Regions from separate parts of the Homo sapiens genome. Here region 1 is linked to region 2. The links come from fine-mapping of genetic effects on gene expression. A gene starts in region 2. The other region holds a variant in brackets. All regions are shown on one strand. Distances are from middle to middle.

Region 1 (4,387 bases), 26 kb before region 2:
AAATACAAAATTAGCTGGGCGCGGTGGCGCATGCTTGTAACCCCAGCTACTCAGGAGGCGGAGGCAGGACAATCGCTTGAACCCGGGAGTTGGAAGTTGCAGTGAGTGAAGATTGTGCCATTGCACTCTAGCCTGGGCAGTAAGAGCAAAACCTCGTGCCCCCCCCGCCCCCCGCCCAAAAAGAAAGAAAAAAAATGCCCTCAGGATTAATACCTGTGAGGAGGCAGGGCTGCAGGATTAGGGGACGTCGGCCTGGAGCTCAGGAAACAAAGGCCTCAGCAAATCTCTCAATAGGAGTGACTCTCTGGAGCTGGGATGGCCCTTGTCAGGAATGCAGCTGTCCCTAGGGGGAGCATGACGTTGGGTGACGCAGCTCTCTTTAGCCTCAGGTGATCCCGGACAGGGACTTCCTTTATCCGGATGTGGTGGCTCGTGCTCATAATCCCAACACTTTGGGAGGCCGAGGCGGGAGGACTGCTTGAGCCCAGGAATTTAAGACCAGCCTGGGCAACAGCCAGACTGCATCTCAAACAAAAAAACAAACAAGAAACCCATAATTGTTATACCAGCTACCATTTACTGAGCATGCTATAGGTTGTGTATTGGCTAATTATTTTACATAGATTGTCTTAATCCTCAGAACAACCCCGTGAAGTAGGTATTGTTTTATGGATAAGAAAATAGGCTCTACGTGGCAGGTGCGGTGGCTCACGCCTGTGATCCCAGCACTCGGGGAGGCCGAGGCGGGTGGATCACAAGGTCAGGAGACCGAGGCCATCCTGGCTAACATGGTGAAACCCCGTCTCTACTAAAAAATACAAAAAAGTAGCCAGGCATGGTGGCGGGTGCCTGTAGTCCCAGCTACCCAGGAGGCTGAGGCAGGAGAATGGTGTGAACCCAGGAGGCAGAGCTTGCAGTGAGCCCAGATCACGCCACTGCACTCCAGCCTGGGCAACAGAGCAAGATTCTGTCTCAAAAAAAAAAGTTATTACAAATTGTGTCAAAAATAAGATGACCATTAATCAGGAGAAGCCAGCCTTTTCTTTTTTTTTTCTTTTTTTGAGACGGAGTCTTGCCCTGTCGCCCAGGCTGGAGTGCCGTGGCACGATCTTGGCTCACTGCAAACTCCGCCTCCCGGGTTCACGCCATTCTCCTGCCTCAGCCTCCCGAGTAGCTGGGACTACAGGCACTCGCCACCATGCCCAGCTTTTTTTTTTTTTTTTTTTTTTTTTTGTATTTTTAGTAGAGACGGGGTTTCATCATGTTAGCCAGGATGGTCTCGATCTCCTGACCTCATGATCCACCCGCCTCGGCCTCCCAGAGTGCTAGGATTACAGGCGAGAGCCACTGCACCCAGCCGAAGCCAGCCTTTTCTTGCACTGAAACTCTAGGCAAGTTCTCAGGATCACTAGCTTCCAATAATAGCTCCTACAGTAAGTGCAATATTGAGTTTCATGTGGGTTTTCGTGATAACATTTCTCAATTAAGGCAGATTGCATGATGCTAAAGAAGAATTTAGGCCAGGCACAGTGGCTTACACTTGTAATCCCAGCACTTTGGGAGGCCAAGGTGGGCGGATCACTTGAGGCCAGGAGTTTGAGACCAGCCTGGCCAACATGGAGAAACCCCATCTCTACTAAAAATACAAAAATTAGGCTGGGCGCGGTGGCTCATGCCTGTAATCCCAGCACTTTGGGAGGCTGAGGCATGTGGATCACGAGGTCAGGAGTTTGAGACCAGCTTGGCCAACATAGTGAAACCCCGTCTCTACTAAAAATACAAAAAATTAGCAGGTGGTGGCAGGTGCCTGTAATCCCAGCTACTTGGGAGGCTGAGGCAGGAGAATTGCTTGAAGCTGGGAGACAGAGGTTGCAGTGAGCCGAGATCGCACAACTGCGCTCCAGCCTGGGTGATGGTGTGAGACTCTGTCTCAAAAAAAAAAGAAGAAAAAATACCCCCAAAATTAGCTGGGTGTGGTGACACATGCCTGTAGTCCCTGCTACTTGGGAGGCTGAGGCATGAGAATTGTTTGAGCCTGGGAAGCAGAGGTTGCAGTAAGCCAGGATCACGCCACTGCACTCCAGCCTAGGTGACAGAGCAAGACTGTGTCTCAAAGAAAAAATAAAAAGAAGAATTTCATGAAGCCTTGAGAAGCCAACTGTGTGGTCCCAGGATAAGGGTCTGTGTTCTCGTTCTCACTGTTGTTCGGTTGGCACTCAGCAGTGCTGATGAGGGCTCCCGAGTGGGACTGCTGTGGGTTCTCATGGCAGTTCTGTGTCTGGGCTGTCCAGGATCTTGGGCTTAGACACATTGCCACGTGGAAGCTGTGGGGTGTGCGTGTGTGTGCACGTGCGTCCACACGCAAGAGCGCATGTGCGTGGTGGGGCAAAGGGTGATTCAGTGGTTGGGAAACCTGGGTTCACCTGTCCTGCCCAAGCCTCAGGCTGCAGCTCCCTCTGCTCCCAGCCTCGGGAGGGGCCTTCTCTTATCTCCAGCATGCAGCTCCAGGGCACTGCTTACAAATGCGAATGCCGTTCCCTCACCCTCCACTATCTCCCTTCCCCTAGCTCTCCCTCC[T/C]GGGAAGAAGGGGGCCTCCTACTGAGGAGGGTAGGAAAGCTTGATCCTAGCTCCATGACTGAGACCTGGTTTGACCCTGGGGGAACCAAGAGCTCCAGGGGGGCTGTGGCCCTGTGAGGCTGCCAGAGTTGCTGAGGATCTGCCAGCTGACCCTCCTCCCCTCAGCCTGAAACCTGAGCCTCACCCAACACCTGCCAGCCCTCTAGGCTGCGCCTTTCACCCAGCACAGGTGTGTCCCATTGTATGTGTTCGGTAGGAGTGAGCTGTCCATGGGAATCTAGTCTCTGTGCATTCCTTGGCTCATGGCAAATAAGAATTCCTTAAAAAATGTTAAAAAGATGACAGGCGCGGTGGCTCACTCCTGTAATCCCAGCACTTTGGGAGGCCGAGGCGGGCGGATCAAGAGGTCAGGAGATCGAGACCATCCTGGCTAACACAGCGAAACCCCGTCTCTACTAAAAATACAAAAAATTAGCCGGGCGTGGCAGCGGGCGCCTGTAATCCCAGCTACTTGGGAGGCTGAGGCAGGAGAATGGCGTGAACCTAGGAGGTGGAGCTTGCAGTGAGCCGAGATCGCGCCGCTGCACTCCAGCCTGGGCGACAGAGCGAGACTCCATCTCAAATAAAAAAAAAAGTTAAAAAGAACCCAGTATCTGTATCACGTTCAACATAAGAGAAAGATGAGACTCTTATTATAGAAGAGTAGGCCAGGTGCAGTGTCTCACACCTGTAATCCTAGCACTTTGGGAGGCCGAAGCAGGAGGATTGCTTGAGCCCAGGAGTTCAAGACCAGCTTGGGGAACACAGGGAGACCACATATCTTTTGTTATTCCAATTTTTAAATTTTTTCTTTTTTACTTAAAGACCAGTGAGATACTAAGGGAGACTGCATTAGGAAGAGACACTGTGTCTGTAAACAACAACTAAAAATTGGCTGGGCATGGTAGGACGTGCCTATGATCCCAGCTACTCAGAAGGCTGAGGTGGGAGGATCACTCGAGCGCAAAAGGTTGGGGCTGCAGTAAGCAACCTCATGCCACTGCACTCCAGCACCAGAGCGAGACCCTGTCTCAAAATAAAATAAAATAAAATAGGCTGGCTGGGTGTGGTGGCTCACCCCTGTAATCCCAGCACTTTGGGAGGCAGAGGTGGGTGGATCACGAGGTCAGGAGTTCAAGACCAGCCTGACCAATATGGTGAAACCTTGTCTTTACTAAACACACACACACACTAGCTGGGAGTGGTGGCGGGCACCTCTAATCCCAGCTACTCTGGAGGCTGAGGCAGGAGAATTGCTTGAACCCGGGATGCGGAGGTTGCAGTGAGCCAAGATCTCACCATTGCACTCCAGCCTGGGTGACAGAGCTAGATTCTGACTCAAATAAATAAATAAATAAAAATAAAAAAGGCTGAGCGTAGCGGCTCGCACCTGTAATCCCAACACTTTGGGAGACTGAGGTGAGAGGATCACTTGAGCCCAGGAGTTGAAGACCAGCCTGGGCAGTATGGCGAGACCCTGTGTACAAAACATAAGAAATGAACCAAATGTGGTGGCACGCACCTATAGTCCCAGCTAATCAGGAGGCTGAGGTGGAAGGATCAGTTGAGCCCAGGAGTTCAAGACCAGCCTGGGCAATATGGTAAGACCCTGTCTACAAAAAACAAAAAATTATCCAGGTGTGGTGTCACTCACCTATAGCCCCAGCTGCTCAGGAGGCTGAGGTGGGAGGATCACTTGAGCCTGGGGGGGTCAAGGCTGCAGTGAGCTGTGATCATGCCACTGCACTCAGCCTGGGTGACAGAGTGAGAT
Region 2 (4,387 bases):
AATAAAAATATAATTGATAGCCTCTTTAGTGTCACGTTTATGGTTTTATTTTAGTGAATATAAATTTTTGAGATTTGAATTTTCATGTCCAAATGGTCCTGGCCTCTAAATGTCTCCTAAACATATTTTTCTTTCTTTTCTTTTCTTTCTTTCTTTCTTTTTTTTTTTTTTTTTTGAGACAGAGTCTTGCTCTGCTGCCCAGGCTGAAGGGCAGTGGTGTGATCTCAGCTCACTGCAGCCACCCCCCTCCCGGGTTCAAACGATTCTCCTGCCTCAGCCTCTGGAGTAGCTGGGACTACAGGTGTGCGCCACCACGCCAGACTAAATTTTGTATTTTTAGTTGTGATGGGGTTTTATCATGCTGGCCAGGCTGGTCTTGAACTCCTGACCTCAGAAGATCCACCTGCCTCAGTCTCCCAAAGTGTTGGGATTACAGGGATTAGCCATCGCATCTGGCCACCTAAACCTATGTCCTCCATGAGGCTATAAGATTTTCACCTGCAAATACCAGCATTGTTTGTTTCTTTTTAAAAGATACTTCAGTCAAGGAAAGGCAGAAAGCCAGGCATGTTAGCTCATGCCTATAATCCCAGCACTTTGGGAGACCGGAGGCAGGAGGATTGTTTGAGCCCAGGAGTTCAAGACTAGTCTGGGCTACATAGCAAACCCTGCGTCAAATTAAAAATAAAAAATAAATAGGCTGGGCATGGTGGCTCATGCCTGTTATCCCAACATTTTAGGAGGCCAAGGTGGGCAGATCACCTGAGGTCAGGAATTCGAGACAAGCCTGGCCAACATGATAAAATCCCGTCACTCCTCAAAATACAAAAATTAGCCTGGCATGGTGGCACACACCTGTAGTCCCAGCTACTTGGGAGGCTGAGGCAGGAGAATCGCTTGAATCCGGAGGCAGAGGTTGCAGTGAGCCCGAGATCATGCCACTGTACTCCAGCCAGGGTGACAGAGCAAGACACTGTCTTAAAAGTAAAAATAATAAAAATAAATAAAATTAATAATTAAAGAAATAAAGAAGGAACACCACAGGGGAGCAGGCCTGGTGTCTGAATGTTAAGGTAGGCCCTCTGTGGATGTGCATCCTTAACCTTTTCCTGATTAGATCATTAAAGGTGCAGCAATGCTCCTGCTCATATGACTTTTTTTTTTTTTTGAGATGGAATCTTGCTCTGTCGCCCAGGTTGGAGTGCAATGGCGCGATCTTGGCTCACTGCAACCTCCGCCTCTTGGGTTCAAGCGATTCTTCTGCCTCAGCCTCCTGAGTAGCTGGGATTACAGGCGCGTGCCACTATGCCTGGCTAATTTTTTTTGAAATTTTTTTAGTAGAGATGGGGTTTCACCATATTGGTCAGGCTGGTCTCGAACTCCAGACCTCGTGATCCGCTCACCTCGGCCTCCCAAAGTGTTAGGATTGCAGGCGTGAGCCACCGCGCCTGGCAACTCATATGACTTTTAAACACTTCTCTTTGGGGAGAGAGATTTTAGAGAATGGGAGTAAAGAGAAAGGCGGTGAGAATCCCAAGTACTTTCTCTATCTTAGAGCAGAAGAAATAAAGGGAAGAGTAAAAGCCCAAGGCCCAGAAACGGATTTGCTTCTTAAAGGGCTGTTCTGTGTCCCTACGGGCCTGAAGGTCAGTTTATGTGCAATGCTTTTTAAGGTATGGGTTGCTTTCTTGCATTGTAGCTACTACCTCCCTGGCCTGCTGGTTACTGACCAGAGGGAGGGAGAGGGTGTGATTGTTTGGAAAGAGTTTAAACAGTGACAAGAATTGAATTTTATTTATTTGTTATTCATTGCACAATCCAATAACAGCGATGGCAATGAAAACGAAAGTTAATCTACAATCCTATCACCCTATTAAGTCACTTGTTTCTATTTTCCCTTTTATTCCCTCATGCATTAAACATTACGCAAAGCACTCCGCTAGTCTTGGTTAAAGTGCAGCTTGTATACATTCTGAATAAAAATTTGCATTTTGCTTTTCTTTTCCTTTTTGTATTTCTGAGGCTGCAAAATACATCTTCACAAGAGTGGCTTTAATAGTTACCTAACATTCCATCCTGCACGTACATTTCAAGGCACTGCCGCAGTGCAATATCCAACATTTAAGCGTCAACGCCAACAGATTGGACCTAGCACTGCAGGGACTGGAGGTTGGTCAAGGTCAGGCGGAGGCTGCCAGGCTACCAGGGTGGAGGAAGGCGCCGAGGCAGAGGCCAGTGCGCCCATCGCGCGGCTCCTCGGGGCACCTGCTGCCTTGGCGCCTTTTCCCTTGGCCTTCGCCTCGCCCGCAGCGCCCTCCGCATAGGGCCCCGCCCGCTGCGCGCGCATCCCCGCCCCCCGGGCGATCTGTCAGAGCACCTCGCGAGCGTACGTGCCTCAGGAAGTGACGCACAGCCCCCCTGGGGGCCGGGGGCGGGGCCAGGCTATAAACCGCCGGTTAGGGGCCGCCATCCCCTCAGAGCGTCGGGATATCGGGTGGCGGCTCGGGACGGAGGACGCGCTAGTGTGAGTGCGGGCTTCTAGAACTACACCGACCCTCGTGTCCTCCCTTCATCCTGCGGGGCTGGCTGGAGCGGCCGCTCCGGTGCTGTCCAGCAGCCATAGGGAGCCGCACGGGGAGCGGGAAAGCGGTCGCGGCCCCAGGCGGGGCGGCCGGGATGGAGCGGGGCCGCGAGCCTGTGGGGAAGGGGCTGTGGCGGCGCCTCGAGCGGCTGCAGGTACACGGGGTCGGCGGCTGTGCGCAGAGGCGTCCCTGCGCCTCTCGTCCCTTCGCCTCTCGTCCCTTCCCTTCTCTCTGCCTTCTTGCCCGCCTCCTCGGTCACAGAGCGACGAATGACGAGACCAGGTGTACCCCCACTGTCGCTCTCAGCCCCGGGGACTTCGGGTCCTCGCCCTTGAAGGCCGCAGGCCCTAGTGCGCCGGCTCCGGGCTGCGGGTCCGGGAGCGCGGGCGCAGCCAAGGTGCAGCTGCGCGGCGTGCGGCGCCGGGGGAACACGTGGCTGCTCCAGGAAGTCGCCCCAGGGAACGGCTGGGATTCGTGGGTGACCTTGGGCTCCTAAACCTTCGGTTCCCCGGGCTCCGGGCGGGCCCCGTTCTCACTGCGGAAAGGGACAAAGCTGTCCCCGATTCGGTTACTAGCGTGTTACAGGCATTAATTAGATACGGGTTTCTGTAAACTTACCCTTCGGCTCTGGTACAACCTGATCTTGCCATGCTCTGCCTGTTCGCCTTGTGTGTGGATTCTGTTTTCTCAAGGCAGAATCCGACTGAACGCCGCAGGTGTTCACATTAAGAATATTGCTAGCAGTTCTCACTACAAGACGGGAGCCATAGGAGTGACTTATTTGTGAAAGATACTTGGAGATTAGCGGTGTGGTCAGAGGGCTGTGCTGGATTGATGGGCGCCGGAGAGGCCGATTGTGTCACATTCTGCTGGACAGTTCTTTTAAGGTTGGGAGGGTGGGTAAGAAAATACATTCTGATTCGGCTCTTTTCGGATAACGCTTTCCCTCTGCTTACTGCTTGTAGAGACCTCACTTACCCGGGGGACTGGATTCTGCAGCTTTTTCCATTTTCTTCCCCGTTGATAAGAGGATTAAAGTAGGAAATTGTATTTGGCTACCCCATGCTTATATGCTAAGCTTACTGTGAAAATTAAGGTTAGGCTGTCTAGAGTACTTGTGGACCCTGCTGGTTCCCCCCGCCCCCCGGCCCTGAATTTTGGGTTACAATATGCTTCTCAAGAAAACTCAGAGTTAAGATAATTTTTGTCATCGATTTTGCAAGGTTATATATAGCATAGCATCCTTCAATTTCCTTTGGATGTTCTTATCAAGTAATGGTGGCTGTAAACCTAGCCTGTGTTGAAGATTGTTAGATAGACAGCAGTTTGGCTAACTCCGCCCTAAGGCGAGGCAGTTACTTGCCTCTGATAATGTATTTAAATGTCATGGAGCAAGATTCCCAGCTAAACCTGAATCGATCACAATGCTAGTTAAAAATGACCCTCGGCTGGGCGCATTGGCTCCCGCCTGTAATCCCAGCACTTTGGGAGGCCAAGGCAGGCGGATCACCTAAGGTCAGGAGTTCGAGTCCAGTCTGACTAACATGGTGAAATCCTGTCTCTACTAAAAACACAAAAATTAGCCGGGCATGGTGGCTCACGTCTGTAATTCCAGCACTTTGGGAGGCCGAGGCAGGTGGATCACTTGTGGTGAGGAGTTCGAGACTAGCCTGGCCAACATGGTGAAACCCCGTCTCTACGAAAAATACAAAAATTAGCTGGGCATGGTGGTGCACACCTGTAATCCCAGCCACTCAGGAGGCTGAGGCTCGAGAGTCGCTTTAACCTGGGAGGCAGAGGTTGTA

Evidence for each region. PIP is the estimated chance that this variant, and not a neighbour inherited with it, causes the effect. A credible set is the group of variants that fine-mapping cannot tell apart.
Region 1: its variant is the best candidate, but not a certain one, in a credible set for the expression of TFRC in whole blood (TOPMed, PIP 0.86).

The regions. Positions count from the first base shown.
Region 1 is chr3:196,106,579-196,110,965 of GRCh38, reverse strand. No RefSeq gene overlaps it. Among named protein-coding and RNA genes, the nearest start is that of TFRC, 27 kb to the right of the region's middle. The variant T/C (reference allele first, on the strand shown) is at 2,578.
Region 2 is chr3:196,080,180-196,084,566 of GRCh38, reverse strand. TFRC (transferrin receptor) reads left to right here and starts at 2,477. Exons shown (of 19, transcript NM_001128148.3): 1 at 2,477-2,524. RefSeq lists silencers at 2,155-2,494, 2,545-2,844 and an enhancer at 3,726-4,225.